Linked DNA regions of Homo sapiens. The protein of the gene in region 1 interacts with the protein of each later gene in a pairwise test. Each region holds a gene or a part of one and is shown in the gene's direction. Other genes may lie near its edges.

Evidence for each region. The genes of interacting proteins can lie anywhere in the genome.
Region 2: the proteins of PRPH (region 1) and RNF183 interact in binary tests that used the Homo sapiens proteins (3 or more experiments, as listed by UniProt).

What each region holds. Positions count from the first base shown.
Region 1 is NC_000012.12:49,290,265-49,298,154, forward strand, and holds the start of PRPH (peripherin), read left to right. Parts: upstream 1-4,882; 5' UTR 4,883-4,936; coding exon 4,937-5,481; exon of another isoform or gene 5,482-5,913; coding exon 5,914-5,974; exon of another isoform or gene 5,975-6,167; coding exon 6,168-6,263; exon of another isoform or gene 6,264-6,320; intron 6,321-6,451; exon of another isoform or gene 6,452-6,624; coding exon 6,625-6,792; exon of another isoform or gene 6,793-6,883; coding exon 6,884-7,009; exon of another isoform or gene 7,010-7,092; coding exon 7,093-7,313; exon of another isoform or gene 7,314-7,412; coding exon 7,413-7,462; intron 7,463-7,693; coding exon 7,694-7,773; intron 7,774-7,890. UniProt on the Homo sapiens protein: Class-III neuronal intermediate filament protein.
Region 2 is NC_000009.12:113,300,370-113,307,620, reverse strand, and holds the start of RNF183 (E3 ubiquitin-protein ligase RNF183), read left to right. Parts: upstream 1-4,244; 5' UTR 4,245-4,565; intron 4,566-4,571; exon of another isoform or gene 4,572-5,307; 5' UTR 5,308-5,426; exon of another isoform or gene 5,427-5,869; 5' UTR 5,870-5,949; exon of another isoform or gene 5,950-7,251. UniProt on the Homo sapiens protein: Acts as an E3 ubiquitin ligase catalyzing the covalent attachment of ubiquitin moieties onto substrate proteins. Triggers apoptosis in response to prolonged ER stress by mediating the polyubiquitination and subsequent proteasomal degradation of BCL2L1.

The sequences.
Region 1 (7,890 bases):
CTCGCCACCATGCCGGTTTACTTTTTTGTATTTTTAGTAGAGACGGGGTTTCACCGTGTTAGCCAGGATGGTCTCGATCTGACCTCATGATCTGCCCGCCTCGGCCTCCCAACGTGCTGGGATTACAGGCGTGAGCCACAGCGCCTGGCTGGTTATTTATTTATTTATTTTGAGATAGGATCTCAGTCACTGGGGCTGGAGTACAGTGGTGTAGTCACAGTTCACAGCAGCCTTGACCTCCTGGGCTCAGGTGAGCCTCCCACCTCAGCCTTCCAAGTAGCTGGGACTACAGGTGTATGCCACCATGCCTGGCTAATTTTTGTGTGTTTTGTAGAGATGGGGTTTCTCCATGTTGCCCAGGACTGGTCTTGAACTTCTAGGATCAAGCGATCTGCCTGCTTTGGCCTCCCAAAGTGCTGGGATTACAGGTGCGAGCCACTTCGCCTGGCCTGGAGTGGAGGTTTGTGTCAATCCTAGACCCGGAGAGGCAGAGACCCCAGCTGACAGATGCAAGTATTAGGGATGTGCTGAAGCAGAGGGTAAGGCTGGGAGGAGCTTAGCATGTCTTTTTTTTTTTTTTTTTTTTTTTTTTTTGAGACAGAGTCTCACTCTGTCGCCCAGGCTGGAGTGAAGTGGCGCGATCTTGGCTCACTGCAACCTCTGCCTCCCGGGTTCAATAGATTCTCCTTCCTCAGCCTCCCAAGTAGCTGGGATTACCGGCGTATGCTACCACGCCCGGCTAATTTGTTTGTTTGTTTTTTGAGATGGAGTCTCGCTCTGTCACCCAGGCTGGAGTGCAGTGGCGCGATCTCCGCTCACTGCAAGCTCCACCTCCTGGGTTCACACCATTCTCCTGCCTCAGCCTCTCCAGTAGCTGGGACTACAGGTGCCCGCCACCACGCCCGGCTAATTTTTTGTATTTTTAGTAGAGACAGGGTTTCACCATGTTAGCCAGGATGGTCTTGATCTCCTGACCTTGTGATCCGCCCGCCTCAGCCTCCCAAAGTGCTGGGATTACAGGCGTAAACCACTGTGCTCCACTGGCATGTCTTTGTTCTATGACTGTTCTTTGGCCAGCCATGGATCTCTTTACTCTCCCAATCTCCCACTCTCTCTTGCCTACATGCCCTCCTAATCCAGCTTTGAGCCCGTGGCCTGACATTTAATAGCACTCTTGGCCAGGCGTGGTGGCTCACGCCTGTAATCCCAGCTCTTTGGGAGGCCGAGGCAGGCGGACCATTTGAGATCAGGAGTTCGAGACCAGCTTGACCTACATAATGAAACCCCGTCTCTACTAAAGTACAAAAATTAGCCAGGCATGGTGGCAGGTACCTGTAATCCCAGCTACTCGGGAGGCTGAGGCAGGAGAATCGCTTGATCCCAGGAGGTGGAGGTTGCAGTGAGCTGAGATCATGCCACTGCACTCCAGCCTGGGCAACAGAGCAAGACTCTCTCTCAAAAAAAATTTAATTTAATTTAATTTAAAAATAGCACTCTTGCCAGTAACCTAAACTTCGTTACTCACCTTCCCTGCAAACCCCTGAACACATGCAATAGTTGTTTCTCTTCCAGCCTTCATCAGAGCAGCCAAGGGAGGCAGGAGGAGGAGGAGCGATGAGAATACTGGCAAATACTTCTACAGCATGTACTAGGTGCCAAGCACAAGTGCTTTACAGAGGGTAACTCGTTTAATCCTCCCAACACCATGAGGTAAGTACTGTTATTATCATTCCCATTTGTGGATAAAGAAAATGGGGTGGCCAGGCGCGGTGGCTTATGCCTGTAATCCCAGCACTTTGGGAGGCCGAGACAGGTGGATCACGGTCAGGAGATCGAGACCATCCTAGCTAACATGGTGAAGCACCGTCTCTACCAAAAATATGAAAAAATTAGCCGGGCGTGGTAGCAGGCGCCAGTCATCCCAGCTACTCAGGAGGCTGAGGCAGGAGAATGGCGTGAACCCGGGAGGCGGAGCTTGCAGTGAGCTGAGATCGTGCCACTGCACTCCAGCCTGGGCGACAGAGCGAGACTATGTCTCAAAAAAAAAAAAAGGAAGAAAAAAGAAAGAAAGAGAGAAAGAAAGAAAGAAAGAAAATGGGGTGAACAGAGGTTAAGTCACTCAGAAAACCCAAAGCACACAGCTAATTAAGGTGAGCAGCCATGAATGAACCTGCACCATCTGCCCAGAGTCCCGGTCCACCAGGGGAGGATGAGGCCAGGGAGGACTTGGCTTCTTCCGCCTTGGGTCCAAGCACTACTTTCAGCAACCAGGGGCACAGTCCAAAAGAAGCCCAGACTCTCACTGCTCTTGGGGCTGACATTATCACTCTGGAGGTTAATAATAATAGCAATAATAAAACCAGCTTCCATTTTCAGGCTTTAAGATGTGTGTCCTAAGCACTTCACATGTATTTATTTATTCCTTTAGTCCTCCCAACAACACTATGAGGTAGAAGCTACAGTTAGTTATCTCCCTTTTCTTGAGGGACATGAAGGGACGTAGTGACGAGCCTAAATTCTACAACAGAGTGGTGGATCAGATGGGAAGTGTGGCAGCTGGATGCCAGAGCCCGGCTCTTAACCCAGACTCTTTGCCTACCTTTGCTCCGCCTGGAGTTGCTGGCCTGCTCCTTCTGCTTTAGGGGAGGAGCCTCTTCTGCCTGGCAGTTCCCCACCCAGGCCTGATCCACAGCTCCAGAGCCCTGCTGTGGCAGCCCTCTGTCCCTTCTCCTCCGAGGCATGTAGGTGGCCAGCGGAGCCCTTAAGCAGGGTGAGGACGGGAACTCCATCTGGAACTCCCCAGGCCCAGCTGCAGCCCCAGCAGCCTCTACTCTCAGAGGCTTGGGTCCCCCACTAGTGCCCTGTAGACAGGGCCTGAGCTGGTCCTCCCCAGGCCTTGCCCGCCTCTCCTGATGCAGAGCTGGCTCCCTGCTCCTGGAGGGTGGGGCCAAATCCGGGATAGATGGGGCTCCAGGCCAACAGCAGCTGGGGCTCAGTGCCCAGGACTGCGGCAGGAAGCACCAAGGCTTCCCTAGCCCCTCCTCACACCCACCAAGCCTCCCGGCCCTATCCCGGGTGGGACCCTACCCCTCCCAATTCCCAGGAGTTAGGGGAGGCCAAGCTGTCATTTATTCGTCCTGTCCCATCTCTCCCTTCCTCCCGCTTCCCACTCCCCTGGCAACCAAACCAGACCCATCAAGGAGAAGGAACTGGCAGCTGTGCAGGGAGAGACTAATGGCCCGGAAGGAAGGAGGGGCCTGGAAAGGAGACGAAGGCGGTAGGGACGTGAGCAGGGCGTTGGCCCTGGCCCATCTCACAGGACGCACAAAGGGGGGAGGGGGCTGCTGCCCTGCAATACTGAGGAGCTGGCCAGCCAGGGAGCCGCCCTCCTTACCCCCAGCCAGATATCCAGGCAGGAACCTGAAACCTGCTTCCCCAGATGCACTCTCTTGTCCTCAGGTCCCATCTGAGGCAGACCTGTCTCACAGGACAGCGCTGGAGTCCCCAGCAGCAGCAGCAGCCCCAGCCCTATGGTTCCTGGCAAACCCAGCAGACCTCAGCAACCCGGCTCCTGCAGACCATCCGAGCTGCCTCTGTCCACTCCTGGGCAGGTTGTGCTTGCATTCTGGAAGCTGTTTGACATACAAAGGCCAGATATCAGCCTTCTCGCTAACTCTGGAGTAGGGGAGGGTGTGGTGGGATGTGTGATTGTGTGTGTATGTGTGTGTATGTAGTGTGTGTGCGCATAGATATACAAAGCTGTGTGTATGCATCTGTTTGCGTGCGCAGGTTTGTGGACCTGTTCTGGGGCCTTCTCTCTTTCAGACTGCTGGGGATGGGCACTTTCTCTTTCCCCATCTCTTCCCCATCCAGCCCCACCCATCCCTGGTACCTGCAACTCATCAATACTGGAAACCAGCTCCTGCCAGTCCATCCATCTCTCAGCCTTGGCAGCCGCTGTTGCCCCTCAGCCCCCTCCCCTTCCTACCTCAGGAATCACTCTGGTTCCTGTAAAGCCCATGACTGAGCAGCAATTGGTGTGGGGTTGGGGGGAGGGAGAATCCAGTAAACCAAGACAGAATACAAAAGGCCCACTTAGCCCAGCCCGTGGCATGGGGCAGACCCTCCCGAGTGGGATCCAGAGCTGGGTCCAGCCACCCTCAGCCCCCTATGATGTACCCACCTCATTGGGGCTTGTTGCGGGGTAGGTCTAGGTTTGGGGGCTGTGTCTTTAAGGCTGAAACATCAGCAGACAACCTCTGCTGGGCCGTCTTCAGGGGAGGGGGAGGGGGGCTGGTCAGCCCATTAGCAGCAGAGCTGGCGCCAGGCACCAGCCCTTCACAGGGCCCTGGGGATTAGGGAGAGTAGCTCTTCCCCAGCCCGATCTGCCTCTGCGCCCCTGTCTCCTATTCCTCTCTGGGTGTGGTGAAGGAGGGGTAGCTGACAGCAGGTGAAAATAGAGCCTGGCCTTCAGGGGGCAAGTCAAGGCACTAGCTATGGGGCCTAAGCCAGGTCAACTCTCCCTCCAGCTGGCCTCCTCCCTACTCCTGTGCCAGAAGCCTGCCCTTTAACTTCAGGTCCTTCTACCTCGCAATTTTCAGGGACTCTAGTTCAAGTCAGGCCTTCCTACCCTAGGTTCTAGCTTTGGGTGCTTGTTGGGAGGAAGTGACCCCCACCCCAGCGGCAACAGGGGGCAATCAAGTGGGTAGAGGCCTGCAACCAGGGAAGGGAGGGGAAGGCGCTCCTGCTGTTCCGCAGGGGTGGGGCATCCCCCTCCCCATACAACCCCCCTCCAGCGGGCCATCAGGCCAGTGGGAGGAGCTGCCCGTGCCCCCCCTGAGACCGCAGGGCTATAAAGCCGCCTCGCAGCGGTCTGCGGCTCCTTCCCAGCCCCCGGCCTAGCTCTGCGAACGGTGACTGCCCATCCTTGGCCGCAATGAGCCACCACCCGTCGGGCCTCCGGGCCGGCTTCAGCTCCACCTCATACCGCCGTACCTTCGGTCCACCGCCCTCACTATCCCCCGGGGCCTTCTCCTACTCGTCCAGCTCCCGCTTCTCCAGCAGCCGCCTGCTGGGCTCCGCGTCCCCGAGCTCCTCGGTGCGCCTGGGCAGCTTCCGTAGCCCCCGAGCGGGAGCGGGCGCCCTCCTGCGCCTGCCCTCGGAGCGCCTCGACTTCTCCATGGCCGAGGCCCTCAACCAGGAGTTCCTGGCCACGCGCAGCAACGAGAAGCAGGAGCTGCAGGAGCTCAACGACCGCTTCGCCAACTTCATCGAGAAGGTACGCTTTCTGGAGCAGCAGAACGCGGCCCTGCGCGGGGAGCTGAGCCAAGCCCGGGGCCAGGAGCCGGCGCGCGCCGACCAGCTGTGCCAGCAGGAGCTGCGCGAGCTGCGGCGAGAGCTGGAGCTGTTGGGCCGCGAGCGTGACCGGGTGCAGGTGGAGCGCGACGGGCTGGCGGAGGACCTGGCGGCGCTCAAGCAGAGGTCAGGGGGCAGGGCTGGGCCGCTGCCGTCGAGGCGAGGTCGAAGCGGCCGTCGAGGCGGCTGCTCTTGCCTCCCCTCGCTTCCCCTCTCCATCAGCAGCCCAAGGGTGTGGCTCCCCTTACCAACCCAGGTGTGTGCGGGCAGCATCCCTGCCCACGGGCTCCAAGTGCCCCCCGCTACCCCTTTGCTCTGAGTGTTTGGGGAGGTGGGAGAAGTGGGTATCTGTGCCTCCCCTGAGTAATGAGGAAACCCCCTTTTCAGCTCCCAGTCCGTTAGAGACAATGCGGGGCAATTCCATTAGACAGCCTCAGCCCTCCATTTAGAGTCCTGGGCAGCAGAACAGCCTCTAACCGGATCCTGGGGGGCGTGCGGTCTGGGGTGCGAGCTGGGCGGCGACCCCGCAGTTCAGCCTCTGCACGCTCTTCCCGTCAGGTTGGAGGAGGAGACGCGCAAGCGGGAGGACGCGGAGCACAACCTCGTGCTCTTCCGCAAGGTGAGTCCGAGCCCCTCTCCGAGTTCAGCCTCCCCACCGCTACCCCCGATCTCAGTATCCAGAGGTGGCATCGGTGGGCGCGGGGAGAAGGGGGTAACCCAGATGCCTCCTGAGGCAGACAGGGAAGGCCTGGTCCTTCCTTGGTCTGCGCAGCCCCTAACTTATCTTGAACCTCCACTGCCACCCCTCGAAGGACGTGGACGATGCCACTCTGTCCCGCCTGGAACTAGAGCGCAAGATTGAGTCTCTGATGGATGAGATTGAGTTCCTCAAGAAGCTGCACGAGGAGGTAAGTGGGCCCGGTATCAGGGGCGGTTTCTGAGGTTGTGGGGTGGTCTCGCTGGAGCTGGCGGGTGGAGCGGAGGCATCGCCCTGGGGATCAGGACGATGCTGGGTAGACGCAGCCCCTCCACCCTAGTCTACAGGTGGTTAGACTCCCACCCTTGCGCCACCTGGCGGCGGGCAGCGGGGCTGTACCTCCGAAACCTGGCCTCTGGTCTCGCGCCCGCGGGGGCGCAGGGCTGTACGCCCTGCCCTCCCTGGCGCCCACTTCTGTTCGTTCAAGCGTTTCTTCTCTTTTCTGTGCACGAACTGCGTGGCCCGCGTGGAATTTGCGCCGCTGTCCATCCTCTGCCTGCTCCCGGCCGTAGGAGCTGCGAGACCTGCAGGTGAGTGTGGAGAGCCAGCAGGTGCAGCAGGTGGAGGTGGAAGCCACGGTGAAGCCCGAGCTGACGGCAGCGCTGAGGGACATCCGCGCGCAGTACGAGAGCATCGCCGCGAAGAACCTGCAGGAGGCGGAGGAGTGGTACAAGTCCAAGGTGCAAGAGCCGGGAGGGCCTGCGAGGCGGGACGCTGGGGTGGTGTCGCGCGTCCCAGCCGACTAAAGCCTGGGTTACCCCCACTTCTCAGTACGCGGACCTGTCCGACGCTGCCAACCGGAACCACGAGGCCCTGCGCCAGGCCAAGCAGGAGATGAACGAGTCCCGACGCCAGATCCAGAGTCTAACGTGCGAGGTGGACGGGCTGCGCGGCACGGTGAGTACGAAGCTGCGCGCTCGGGCCCGGGGAGCGGACGATGAAATGTTCTGCAACTGGCCCCTTCCACTCTCCTACCCCAGAACGAGGCGCTGCTCAGGCAGTTGAGAGAGCTGGAGGAGCAGTTCGCCCTGGAGGCGGGGGGCTACCAGGCGGGCGCTGCGCGGCTCGAGGAGGAGCTGCGACAGCTAAAAGAGGAGATGGCGCGGCACCTGAGGGAGTACCAGGAGCTCCTCAACGTCAAGATGGCCCTGGACATCGAGATCGCCACCTACCGCAAGCTGCTGGAGGGCGAGGAGAGCCGGTGAGGGTGGAGCTGCTGGGGCGGGGCAGGGCGGGGTCGGGACTGGGCCGGGCAGGGCGGGGCCTGGGCAGGGGCGCTGACAACTTGCTTCGCCTCTAGGATCTCCGTGCCCGTCCATTCTTTTGCCTCCTTAAATATAAAGACGACTGGTGAGTCTGGCTTACAGCCTGTACCTCTCCTTGTCCACTTCTGCCCTCCTCGGGCTCTTGCTCTGGCTCACCTCAGGGATCTCTTCTCCCCACGGAACTTCTGGGTCCTGGCCTGTACCCACCCCTACTCCTCAAACCCGCCCCTCCCCTGCCCTCAGGGATAGCAGTGGGAGCCTAAGAGGAGAGATTCCCACGCCTTCCCCCTTGAACCCTTTATCCTGCTTTCTTCAGTGCCTGAGGTGGAGCCTCCCCAGGACAGCCACAGCCGGAAGACGGTTCTGATCAAGACCATTGAGACCCGGAATGGGGAGGTGAGGCAGGTCCCCTAATGCCAGGACCCCACCATTTCCCATATTATTTCTGAGCCCCAGCCTGGCTGTCGCTAATCTTACTTAGGGTGGGTAATTCTTGGGGAGAGACAGAGAAGG
Region 2 (7,251 bases), on another chromosome or scaffold:
CACCCCACGCCTCTGCTCCAGACATTGGCTGGGCTCCACCGAGTCTCATGACTCTTCACTCACCCGGGTCTAAGGTACTGCTTAGGTGAGGTGCTTTTCCAGATGGCTGATCTTGCCCCCACAAGCATGAACTTTATAAATTAGTTTAACTCTCAAGTTCCTGAGATGCCTCACTATCTCTCCCGGGTATCTCCCTGGAAAAATTTTTCACTGTTGGCAAAGCACTCCTTAGCCTGACCACCCACAGACATTATGATAATGCATAGACTCACTAGACAATTAGTGACCTGGAAAAAAGCCATGACTTTTTAAATTTTATTTTATTTTTCTGAGACAGAGTTTCGCTCTTGTCGCCCAGGCTGGAGTGCAATGGCGCGATCTCGGCCCACTGCAACCTCCGCCTCCTAGGTTCAAGTGATTCTCCTGCCTCAGCCTGCAGAGTAGCTGGGATTACAGGCACCCACCACCATGCCTGGCTAATTTCTGTATTTTTAGTAGAGACGGGGTTTCACCATGTTGGCCAGGCTGGCCTCGAACTCCTGACCTCAAGTGATCTGCCTGCCTCGGCCTCCCAAAGTGCTGGGATTACAGGCCATGCCTGGCTATGACTTATTTTATTTTTATTTCAATGCTTACAATGTCATGACTGACTTCTTACCTGCCCTACCTGCTTATCTTTTTAAGTTCTGGATACCCTGGTTGCAGAAAACTCAGACTTAACTTACTTTCTAAGTGAACTTTCTTACTACAAAAGTAATACATATTTGAGAACTTGGAAAATGTAAGCAAGAAGAAAGCGAAAACATGAGTGGCCATCACCCAGAGATAAAATTGTGACATTTTGCCTCATGGTCTTGCAGTCTTTATACATAAATTATGCTTTACAAAATCTGGCTTATGCTACATTCTCTCTTTCTTTCCTTTTCTTTTCTTTTCCTTCCCCTCCCTCCCTCCCTCCCTTCCTTCCTTCCTCCTTCCCTCCCTTCCTTTCTTCCTCCCTCCCTCCCTTCCTTCCTTCTTCTTTCCTTCCTTCCTTCTCCCTCTCTTTTCTTCTTTTCTTTCTTTTTTTCTTTTCTATCTTTCACAGGGTCTTTGCTCTGTTGCCCAGGCTAGAGTGCAGTGGTGCAATCTGGGCTCACTGCAGCCTTGACTTTCTGGGCTCAAGTGATCCTCCCACTTCAGCCTTCTGAGTATCTGAGACAACAGGCATGTGCCACCACGCCCAGCTAATTTTTTATTTTTTTATTTTTTGTAGCAATGGGGTCGCTAGTCTTGAACTCCTGGGCTCAAGCAATCCTCCAACCTCGGCCTCCCAAAGTGCTGGGATTATAGGCATGTGCCCAGCCAACATGCACCGTTTTTTTGTTTTGTTTTGTTTTGGTTTTGGTTTGTTTGTTTGTGTTTTTTTTGAGATGGATTCTCTCTCTGTTGCCTGGGCTGGAATGCAGTGGTGCAATCTCGGCTCACTGCAACCTCCGCCTCCCAGGTTCAAGCGATTCTCCTGCCTCCTTAGCCTCCCAAGTAGCTGGGATTACAGGCACCTGCCACCACGCCCAGCTAAGTTTTTTTTTTTTTTGTATTTTTTAGTAGAGACGGGGTTTCAACATATTGGCCAGGCTGGTCTCAAACTCCTGACCTTGTGATCCGCCTGCCTCGGCCTCCCAAAGTGCTGGGATTACAGGCGTAAGCCACCGTATCCGGCCAACATGCACCATTTTTAAGCTGCTTTCCCCCTCCATTTACAGTATACTGTGACCATTTTTAAAAGTCAATGAAAATCTTTCTATATCATTTTAAATGATTATGTAGTTTTTCACCTAATTGATGGGGTTTTGGAGTGTTTTCAATCATTTGTGATTAAAATAAAACTGCAATGAATATCCTCACTCAACCAAAATATATCTTTTTGATGCTTCTGGGGAATTACATGATTAGGTCAAAGTAGATGAACTTCTTTATGTTTTCTTATGTTGCCAAGCCAGAAAGCGTGACTTCCAAACTCTCAAATACAAACCAGGTTCTTTGGACTAAATCAGTGTCTCGAATCCCCAGTAACCTCAGTTAACCAGTAGTGACACCGAAAAGCAGGGAATTCCAGAGCTGAGAGGAACTTTGAGGCCATCGGTGATCATATACCTCGTCTCCAGCTCAGAAAGAGGAGAATTACTTAGACATTTTCTTTAGAGATCTAAAACTTCCCAAAGTCCACAGTTTTATTTTCACACAATTCTAGGCTAACTTAAAATCAGCATTTTTGCATTATTCTTTCATTCAATATTTATATATTTATAATGAGGGGGTTAGATCAATAGGGGATTGGTGAAGTGATTTATGGTACAGCCATTCAATGAAATCTGATACAACCATTAAAAAACCGAAGAAGGTCTTCTTTTTTTTTTTTTGCTCTGTCGCCCAGGCTGGAGTGCAGTGGTACAATCTCAGCTCACTGCAACCTCTGCCTCCCAGGTTCAAGCGATTCTCCTGCCTCAGCCTCCTGAGTAGCTGGGACTACAGGTGTGCACCATGACGCCGGCTAATTTTTGTATTTTTAGTAGAGACGGGGTTTCACCATGTTGGCCAGGCTGGTCTTGAACTCCTGACCTCAAGTGATCCACCCGCCTTGGCCTCCCAAAGTGCTGGGATTACAGGTGTGAGTCACAGCGCTGGGCCAAAAACCGAAGAAGGTCTTTATGTACTAATACAGAATGATATCTCAAATACATCATCAAATGAAAAAAGAAAAATGCAGAACAGTGTACATAATATGCACATTTGTGTAAAAAGGAGGTAAAGGAATACATAGATGTTTTGCCATGGACATGCTGTTTGTGTATGTATAAAACATCTTTGGAAAGATACACAACAAACTGATAGTATAATACTTTGATTTCCAGGGAAACTAGGTGGCTGCGAAGAGACAGTTTTCACTGTGAAATCAAACCATTCACATGCTCAACCATGTAAATATATTACCTATTTAAAAATCAAATGTGGGCACGGTGGCTCAAGTGTAATCTTAGCACTTTTGGCAAGTGGATTGCTGGAGCCCAGGAGTTTGAGACCAGCCTAGGCAACCTGGAGAAACCCCATCTCTACAAGAAATACAAAAATTAGCCAGCCACGGTGGCATGCACCTGTAGTCCTAGGTACTCAGGAGGCGGAGGTGGGAAGACTGCTTGACCCCAGGAGGTTGAGGCTGCAGTGAGCTGTGATCGTGCCACCGCACCCCAGCCTGGATGATAGAGTGAGACTCTGTCTCAAAATAAATCAATACATAAAAATTAATGTAAAAAAACACAAAATGCGGGGACTAGGGCATTTGATTACATCACCAAGCAGATACATTTATTTACTTGTTTATTTCTCAAGTATGGCTGAAAATGTCAGTAAAGAAATAAGGGGCCAGGCGCGGTGGCTCATGCCTGTAATCTCAGCACTTTGGGAGGTCGAGGCAGGTGGATCACCTGAGGTCAGGAGTTTGAGACCAGCCTGGCCAACAAGGCGAAATCCTGTCTCTACTAAGAATGTAAAAATTAGCCGGGCATGGTAGCGCGCACCTGTAGTCCCAGTTACTCGGGAGGCCGTGGCAGGAGAATTGCTGGAACCAGGGAGGTGGGGGTTACAGTGAGCCAGTATCGCCCCACTGCACTCTAGCCTGGGCGACAGAGCAAAACTACGTCTTAAAAAAAAAAAAAAAAAAGAAAGAAAAAAAAAAAGAAAGAAAGAGAGAGAGAAAGAAAAGAGGACCATAGGTACAAAAAGAATTTGAGCGGGAACAAAAGATGGGCCACGTGAACAGACCGGTTATAACAATAATAGTTCTGGTTAACATTTAGCGAGTTACTGTCTGCCAGGCCCTGTGTTATTACGCGATCTCGACACGTATTACCTCATTTAATCTACAGATCAAGTAGGTAGGTTATTATGGCCATTTTCAGGTGAGGAAACTGAGGCTGGCAGAAGTTAATTAATTTGCTCAAGTCTCCATCGGTAGTTAAACGGAGTTTGGATTCTCAGTGAGGGCTGAACTCTGACCTAGAAGTGTGCCTTGCTTGAGAACCCTGGCTCTTCAGGCAGACGCTCAACCGTCTCCCGACTATTTTTCTGCTGTATTAGTGGCCGCTTTTGTCAGTATTTTGCAAGAGCTATCTGTATTTTGGTTACAGGGACTCAGCATAGGGAAGGATCCATCTCGGCAGAAGCCAGGAGTCGAGGCAGGTCAGCGCACAGAGGACAGTGGAATCCGAGGGGATGGCAGGAGATCAATCGGACCCAGAACAGAGGCCTGCAAGGATGAGCGCACTTGATCCCCTCAGAGAAAAAGCCAGAGTGACTCACAGGAGAAAGACAAAGCAACCAAAGCTTCCAGGGTGTACAGGAGGTCCAAAGTCACCAGAAGGAAGAAGAAAACCTGAAACAGCGAGAGCTGGCCAAACGCTGCTAAGACCTATGCAAATAAGACCCACCCACGCTACCTGGAAATCGGGCCTGGGAAGTCAGAAAACAAAGCACATGCGTGCAGGGCTGCACGAACGGAGGCGGAGGAGGCGGCTCCGAGGGAGCAGGTAAGGAGACAGAGAGGGTCGCGGAGGGACGGGTCACAGGGCTCCAGAGTCCAGAGAGGCAGCAGCCGTGCAGCGCGCGACAGGTGAACTCTGGCCTGGGAGGGCAGGCTACTGGGTTCATCTTTCAAACTCAGCCACTCTTTAGCTGGGAAGACTTCGGCAAGTTGCCTCACCCTTCTGAGCCTTGGCTTCCCCATCTAGAAAATGGGTCTAAAAATAATCATGCTAACTCTGTATTGAGCGCCTTCCGTATTCTACTGGGCACCGTATAGACTATTCCTTCCCCAGAGCAACCTTGTAGGAGTGGGATGATTAGCCTTTTTTACAGAGGAAAATGAAGTTCAGAGAGGTTAAGCCATTTGTCCAAGACAAATTGTTCCAAATCTGGTTCCAAAGCCGGCACCTTTCTACTCCCCATTCAGCCTCTCTCACAGGGTGGTTTTAGAGTATCAAATGGCTTTCTGCAAACAACAACAAAAAATCCCAAAAGGCTAGTAACCTATCTAGATGGATCACCACACTTAGATCTTAGCAAGGGCCAGGGCCCTTTGTAAACTGTGAAGTGCTATGGAAATGCCAGTTCTTGGTTGAAAACAATGGAGTGATGCTGGGGACAATTGATATTTGGCGATGACTTGTTCATAGACCAAGGAGATGACTTTGGGGCGGTGTTTAGGATTTACTGTAGCTGAGATGTCCTGGCTTGGGGTGGAGGTGATACATGGCCAGAATCTCTCCCCAGCTGATCCTGAAACAGCAGTGGATCCCTGGGAGAGCAGCACAGATAAAGATCCAGGCAATAATGATGCTTCCTCCTCTTGGACAGCCTTTTACAGTTCTGGCCATGGAACTTCAGAGAAGGTAGGTCTGATTTGGGGGGAAACAGGAGATCTTGACGTGTAGTAATACAAGCTTACTGGATGGAGTAAAGTTAGAATTTTCAGGTAAGAGAATTAAAAAAAAAAAAAAAACTTATAATCTTGCCCCCAGAGATAACCACTGCTAATATCTGGTTGTTTATCTCTCCAGACATTTTTTCCATTGCACACACACTTTTGGAAATTGGATTATATGGTAATATGGTTTTGTTGCTGGTTCTTTTTCGCTTAATGACATTATATCCTAGGTATATATCCATATTAATAGTTTTACCACATCATATTAAAGGCTGCATAATATCTCTTCCTATGGATGGAGCAGAATCTACTTAATCAATGTCCTATTACTGGATGATGACGTAGTTCTCCATACGTCACCGTTAAACCAGCGCCTGGATGGGCATCTCTTTACTCACATCTTTGCAGAAGTCCTTGATGGTTTCCGTGGAATCGATTCCCAGTGGGGGAAATGATGAGTCAAGGTTACATACAGTTTACGGCCTCTGGTAAGTATTAAAGATCTGCTTCTAACACACTCTGGGATTCAGGGGCTTCTCAAAGCTTGATGCAGAGGACTTTGTCACGGCTTTGAAATCAACCTTGACCCTTCCTTTCTCTCAAATCCATTTGCATTAATAATTTCAACTGCCTCATATATCCATAACAATGTTTTGATCAACAGTGAATTACATATGTGATGGTGGCCACCTAAGATTATAATACCATATATTTACCTTGCCTTTTCTAAGTTTATGTTGAAAGACACACGCAATTATCATTGTGTTACAATTGCCTACAGTGTTCAGAACATAATAAGCTGTATGGGTTTGTAGCCTAGGAGCAACAGGCTAGACCGTATAGCCTAGGCATGTAGCAGGCTCTACCATCTAGGTTTGTGTAAATACTCTCTGTGCTGTTCATACAACGATGTGTTTCTGAGAACATAGTCCCATTTTTAGGTCATGCATTGCTTTGTGGTCTTTACTGGGTGCTGGGCTCTAACTAAAAGCTTTACTAGTTTTGGCTTCCTTTGCACAAGGAGAAATAGAGGCACAGAGAGGTCAAGCAATTCAACTGGAATCACAGCCCTAAATAGCCATGGATCTGGCATCATGAACCTTGACAGAAACTACAACTGGATCCCTAGAACTCCACTGCTTCTTGGGAAGTGGCTTTGATTCTGTCCCCAAAGATATCACTTATCCCATCCCCTTTTATCTCCTCTGCCACTGCCTAACCTGCACCACCATCACACGCCTGAGCCACACTGCTGCAGCCCGAACGGGTGTTCCCTTCCCGATCTTATCCCTCTCAGCCTGTCCTCTGCTCTGCAGCTAGAATGGTGTTTTAAAAATGGAAATAGGATCAGGTACCTTACCCTACCGCTCACCCCTGGAATAAAATCCAGATGAGCTCCTGAGTTCACAGGTCCCGAGTACTATACCCTCCCACCTTGCCTACTCCGGTCACCACACCTTGATCACCCTGGGCTCCTTTCACTTTCTCAAATTGGAAGAGCTTTTCTCACCTCGGGGCCACACATGCTGTTCCCTGGGCCTGCAACGCTCTTCCTCCACTGTGCGTGGCTGGATTCCTATATACTTTGGTCTCAGCTCTTCTGTCATCTCTTTGCAGAAACCTTCTCTGGTGGTCTCATTGGGAGCAGCCACCAAGCACCCGAAGCCCATTTTCCTTTTTGCCCTTTATTAACAACCATTAAAATTGTGTATTTATTTATTGCCCATTATTCATTAAATGTCTTTTTGCCTCACTACACTCTAAATGTCATGAGGTCAAAGACAATGTCT